Linked DNA regions of Homo sapiens: region 1 is linked to region 2. The links come from fine-mapping of genetic effects on gene expression. A gene starts in region 2. The other region holds a variant in brackets. All regions are shown on one strand. Distances are from middle to middle. Region 1 overlaps CYP3A43 (cytochrome P450 family 3 subfamily A member 43). Region 2 holds the start of SAP25 (Sin3A associated protein 25).

The links. PIP is the estimated chance that this variant, and not a neighbour inherited with it, causes the effect.
Region 1: its variant is the best candidate, but not a certain one, in a credible set for the expression of SAP25 in whole blood (TOPMed, PIP 0.84).

What each region holds. Positions count from the first base shown.
Region 1 is chr7:99,859,450-99,862,356 of GRCh38, forward strand. CYP3A43 (cytochrome P450 family 3 subfamily A member 43) reads left to right here. Exons shown (of 13, transcript NM_057095.3): 10 at 381-541; 11 at 2,164-2,390. Among named protein-coding and RNA genes, the nearest start is that of OR2AE1, 16 kb to the right of the region's middle. RefSeq lists a silencer at 823-1,023. The variant A/T (reference allele first, on the strand shown) is at 1,475.
Region 2 is chr7:100,572,860-100,575,691 of GRCh38, forward strand. SAP25 (Sin3A associated protein 25) reads right to left here and starts at 1,041. Exons shown (of 6, transcript NM_001348680.2): 1 at 738-1,041; 2 at 438-541; 3 at 247-353; 4 at 1-154. The coding sequence starts at 883. LRCH4 (leucine rich repeats and calponin homology domain containing 4) reads right to left here. Exons shown (of 18, transcript NM_002319.5): 18 at 1,152-2,445. The coding sequence ends at 2,248. RefSeq lists enhancers at 1,905-2,459, 2,460-2,832.

The DNA.
Region 1 (2,907 bases), 710 kb before region 2:
GGGAGAATGTTACTCCACGTTTACTTATAGATAAAGAACTTCTATGATTATCCAAGGGACATCCCTATAACACTGAGTATGTTAGACAGAAATGCTCTCTTTGAAAGTTACCCAGCTGTGCAGCTGGTGGGGATGGTATGATGAGGAGTGAATGGCCCACAATCGTGTAGACCCTGGAAAAAAAACTGGATTAAAGTGACTTTGCCTTATTCTGGCTCTGTAGGATACACATCAGAGTGAAGCCACCCGCAGTGTGACTCTGAATTGCTTTTCTATTTTTGCTCTTAGGGATTTGGGAGCTTCACTGGAATTTTGCTTCATCTAAACTGTGATGCTCTACACTAACCACTTTTCCTAAAATATATTTCCTCTCCTTTCAGCTCTGTCTGATCTGGAGCTTGTGGCCCAGTCAATTATCATCATTTTTGCTGCCTATGACACAACTAGCACCACTCTCCCCTTCATTATGTATGAACTGGCCACTCACCCTGATGTCCAGCAGAAACTGCAGGAGGAGATTGACGCAGTTTTACCCAATAAGGTAAGGGGATGATCCCCTGGAGAAGGAGGGAGAAGGTGAAGCCTCAGCAAGAATGCCTCCTCACCACTTGCCAGGACAATTTTTGCAAAAAGCGTAAGCATCAGTTCTTTCATTTACACTATGCAGAAAGGCTGTAAAGAGTAAAAACAAAGGGAGAATCGTAGGTAGTGGATGCTTCTTGCGTAAGTGTAAGATCTTTGTGAAACAGTGCTGGTCCTGCTGCATCCGTTGTCTGTTAGCAACATAACACCAAGTAAAAAATATCCAGAAATCTCAATGACAACTAAAAACAATCATTTATTGCTCACAAGTCTGGATAGTGAGCTCTGCTGATATTGGCTGGACTCGCTGTGGTCTGGCAGTGGTCTGATGGAACCTGGCCCTGGGTGCGCTGGGCAGGCTGACTCAGCTCTGCCTCACACCTCTCTCTGCTCCAGTCAAGTAGCTAGTGGTGAAGAAGCCAAGCTAGGACCCAGGGTGCCTGACGCCTGGGCCAAACATTTAACCTCTACAATATTACCTTCCAAATATAACACCAAATGCTAGCCACGTATTACCCACACTGTTTCCAGAATTCTGCCCAAATTGGAATTCTTTATGGTGTAACGAGATCTGGCCTTGGGGCTGGCCCTGGTTTGGCAGTGAGGTGAACACAAAGGAATGTTCATCTAAGTTCATAGTCCAGGCCTGAAGGAACAAGTGGGAAATTGTTCGAGAAAGACAGGATGGGGCTGCCCGGAGGGTTCCTATCCTGTTTACAACTCTCAGTAGCACTGAAATTGTGTGCCCTGTCCAGTTATAAAGTTCTTTTGTCATATTTGGGTTACAAAAGAACTAGTTTATCCCCAAACTATTTATAGGGTTTTTATATAACATAGTGTTACTCTCCACATTTTTTTTTTGCATGGAGTCTTGCTTCGTCGCCCAGGCTGG[A/T]CTGCAGTGGGGTGATCTCGGCTCACTGCTACCTCCGCCTCCAGGGTTCAAGTGATTCTCGTGCCTCAGCCACCTGAGTAGCTGGGATTACAGGCGTGCGCTACTATGCCCGGCTAATTTTTATAGTTTTAGTAGACACAGGGTTTCACCATGTTGGCCAGGCTGGTCTCAAACTCCTGACCTCAAGTGATCCACCCACCTTGGCCTCCCAAAGTGTTGGGATTATAGGCATGAGCCACCATGCCTGGCCTAAACAGGACTTTTCCATTTTAAATGCTTGTATGAAATAGAGGATTTGCTTTTTACATTTTCTTTTTCCTTGGTACAGATGCATAGCCTCTCTTTGGAAAGGTGACACTGGCTTTGGCATATTTTAGGTGATTCAAATGGCCATCGTCTATTAGTCATGTTTGTTCTCCCAAGAAAGAAAAAACACGAAATGGTAATGTCAAGGATTTCAGTCTCTGTGTAAGTGATTGTGCCAAATTCATAACTCCTCCACACATCTCAATGGGCCATCGAGCACATCACTGGGTATGGAGAATTATTAAAATAATTTATAAATGCAACAATCTTTTACCAGAATGAATTATTCTCTGGAGCTCCTAACACTTCAATAGTACTGCATGGACTAAGTTGAAAGTTAATTCCCAATCTCAATTTATCCAAATCTGTTTCTTTCTTCCCAGGCACCTGTCACCTACGATGCCCTGGTACAGATGGAGTACCTTGACATGGTGGTGAATGAAACGCTCAGATTATTCCCAGTTGTTAGTAGAGTTACGAGAGTCTGCAAGAAAGATATTGAAATCAATGGAGTGTTCATTCCCAAAGGGTTAGCAGTGATGGTTCCAATCTATGCTCTTCACCATGACCCAAAGTACTGGACAGAGCCTGAGAAGTTCTGCCCTGAAAGGTACAAGGCCCCTGGGAAAGGAGCCTTCCCTCAACCAGCCTGATTCAAGTATATTCTGCCTCTCTCGATGCACATGGCAATCATTTGAATATGTGCCTTTTCATTTTGGAAGTTTTTTATTACAAAATGATAACTGTTAAACTTTACAAACCATAGATTAAGAAACACCTTATAACAACCCTCATTAACTATGTAATGCCTGTCTTGTAGGCATTTTTCTATGCATAGACATTTTTAAAAACTAGTATACTATCACATTTTATTTGAGTTTGAACTGCTGCTTACTTCATTTCAAAGTAAACCATTACCTATCTACTATCTTACGTTACTACATATTTCTATATGCATAAGCTATAATTCATTTCACCATAATGTTATTTTGAGTATATAAGCTTGTTATTCATTTCAGTTTTTCTTTGCTGTGCCCTTTAGCTCTCTGAATTTAGCACCACGTTTAGGACATGTTTCCACATTCCTTTTTCTTTCAACATTGCTTGCTGTTTTCCGTAATGTAACT
Region 2 (2,832 bases):
CTGCATCTGGGGGCGCCTGCTGTCCATTCCAGTGCCCTGTGGCAGGGGCCACGGGCCTGAGACCCCTGCCCGAGGCTGCTTCATACAGCGGCCAGAATGAGGGGTGACACAGCGTCCGGCCTGAGAACGAGGCTCCTGAGCTACAGTTGGCCCCCTAGGGTGAGGAGGACAGAGCACTGGAGCCTCAGGCCACCGCACAGCTCCCTGAGCACCCCAGCCAGTCCCACAGGTTTGCCCCCAACTCACCCACACCGGCCGAGGTCCTGCTTTGGCTTCATACTTGGGGTCCCAGGGCGCTAGTGGAGTCATCCTCGAGGGGGCCACCTCCCAGGCCACCTGGGGGGAACGGGGATCTGGGGGGACGCTTGGGGATTATAACAGGCTCACAGTCAGTGAGAGGCTCTTAGGGGTAGTAGAGGCAGCAGGGCCTGTCCTACCTGGGGCTCCGGGGGGCTGCTCAGTGGCCGGGCCTGGCAGGTGGTGGGGCAGCAGCAGCTGCTCTCTCCAGATCCAGGAAGGGCTACGGGATGGGGGCTGTGGGCTGGAGGGGCAGGGACTGAGGCTGCAGCCACACCGCCCCCACGCACCCTCCCCTGGAGCCCAAGGGTGCCTGGTGCAAGGGAGACCGAGGGACCCAATCTCCAGCAGGGACAATGGAGAAGCCTCCGTAGAGCGCGTGGTGAAGGCATGGAGGCCCCCAGTCGCTGTCCCCCCACGGCTCCGTCCGAGCCCCTCACCTGTCCCATGGGGGTGTCCCCAGCTCCCTGGGGGCGTCCGCTCCGGCGCTCCAGGGCTCGCCCTGGTCCTTGCCCGCCGGAAGGCCTGGTCCCTCGGGCGCCTCCTCCGGGCCCGCGCCCCACCGCGGCGGCGACCAGGGCAACATTCCGCGTTCCCGAGCGCAGGACGGTACCGCCGTGTCCCCGCCGCCCGGCCCGGCCCTCTCAGCCTCCCTCCGCGGCGCGGCGCGAACGTGCCCTCCTGGCGAACCCACCCCAGAGGCCTCGCGGCGACGCTGGCGCCCTGTGCGTCTCCCGGCCACGTGGCGCGTGCCCCCGCCGGGCTCCCGCGGGCGCCCCCTGGCGACTGGGCGGTGAATTCCGGAAACAGAGGCCCCCCCAACAACCCCGCGACGCACGTGCTCTCAGACACAGTTACACCTGAGGGCCACCCAGAGGGCTTCTGGCTTCTGTTTATTGCGGCTGACACGACACCTGCGACACCCGCGGTCCTTCCACCCAGACCCTCGACCCCAGAGGCAGCCAGGCCGGCAGGCCAAGGGTGCCCAGGCCCAGGCCACCCTCACCACGTGCTTCTCTGAGAGCGCGGAGCCCAGGCGCGTCTTCTGCTCCCGGGGTCCCGGGCGGGGTGGGCCCTGTGCCCCCACCTTCACCCCTAAGGCCGGTCCAGCAGGGCGTGGACGACAGCAGCGATGTAGGGGAGGCCCCTTCCCGGGGCCCCCTCCTCTTCCAGGATGTGGTGGGGCTGGCACAGTGACTCCTGGGGGAAGGGGCCGGGTTAGCTTCCCCACGGTGCCCCCTGCGGCTTCCGGCCTGTGGCAGGGGGTCGGGGGCAGACCCGAGCATCACCGTGCGCTCGGGGCTCGGCGACAAATGAGACGCAAGAAAGCTGTCAGCGATAACAGAAGGGAGGTGACACGGGGGGTTGGCGGACGCTCCGGGAGCATGAGAGGCCGGCATCTCAGGAGGGAGATGCTGGTGGGCACAGAGCCATGGCCACAGCCACCAACACGCGGAGCAGACGCGCGCGCGCGCGCACACACACACACACAGGCAGGGCGGCCACGGTCTGTACAGTTTATACACAGAGATAGGGACCCGGCCTGGGCCCCGAACCCCTACAAATATAGATCCTCTCTACAAAATAGAGATAATTTAGCCCCCCCATAGCAGCTGTTGGGGGGGGAAGGGGAGGGCACAGGAGGAAGGGGGAGACTCCAGCTCCTGCCACCCCTCACGGGGTACAGAGGGCAGGGGCAGGGCCGGCGGGGACATGAAGGCACCGTCAGCACTGAGAGGTGGGGACTCGTGGGGCTACTGGAGGGAGGCCAGAGGCTGGGGGCCCAGGGTCTGGGGGCACCAGAGTGGGGCCTCTGAGGTCAGTGTCTGTGAAGGGGGTGCACTAGTGTCTTTGGTTGGGGCTGAAGGCACCGCAGGTGGGGTCGGGTGGAGCAGGGACCTTATAAATAGAGAGGAAGGGAAAGGGGTGAGGGAGGGCCGATTTTGGGGCCTAGGAACCCAGGAGCCGAGTGTAGGTGACATAGAGCAGCAGCATGAGGACCACGTAGAAGACGACGAAGCCGCCCAGACCAGAGGGGGGCCAGAGGGGCGGTAGGGCCTTGCCCCCCACCCGCTTCACGGCCTCCAGCGCGGTCCGCAGCCCCCGGGCAGTGCCCTGGAGGAGATCCGAGGGCGAGCACAGGTCAGCCTGGGGGAGAGGAGAGCAGGTGGACAAGGACAAGGGACAGACGTCAGCAGCAGCAGCAGGACAGTCCCTCCCACCCCTGCCCTCACGTGCTGGGGCCAGAACCACGCCCACATGCTGACGTGCTGGGCAGGGGGAGTGCAGTGCAGGAGGAGTGCAGGGCAGGGCATGTGCAGGACAGGTGACATGCAGGACAAGATGGGGCCTGCAGGGCAGGGGATGTGTAGGACAGGTGACATGCAGGGCAGGGGGCATGCAGGGCAGGGGGCATGCTGGGCAGGGCAGGGGCAGCCTGTGCCTTCATCTGAGAGCAGACATCCGCTGCAAATGGAAGCCCACCATCCATGCCACATGCTCGGCTGAGTCCGGCATGCCACCACTCTTTAGAAA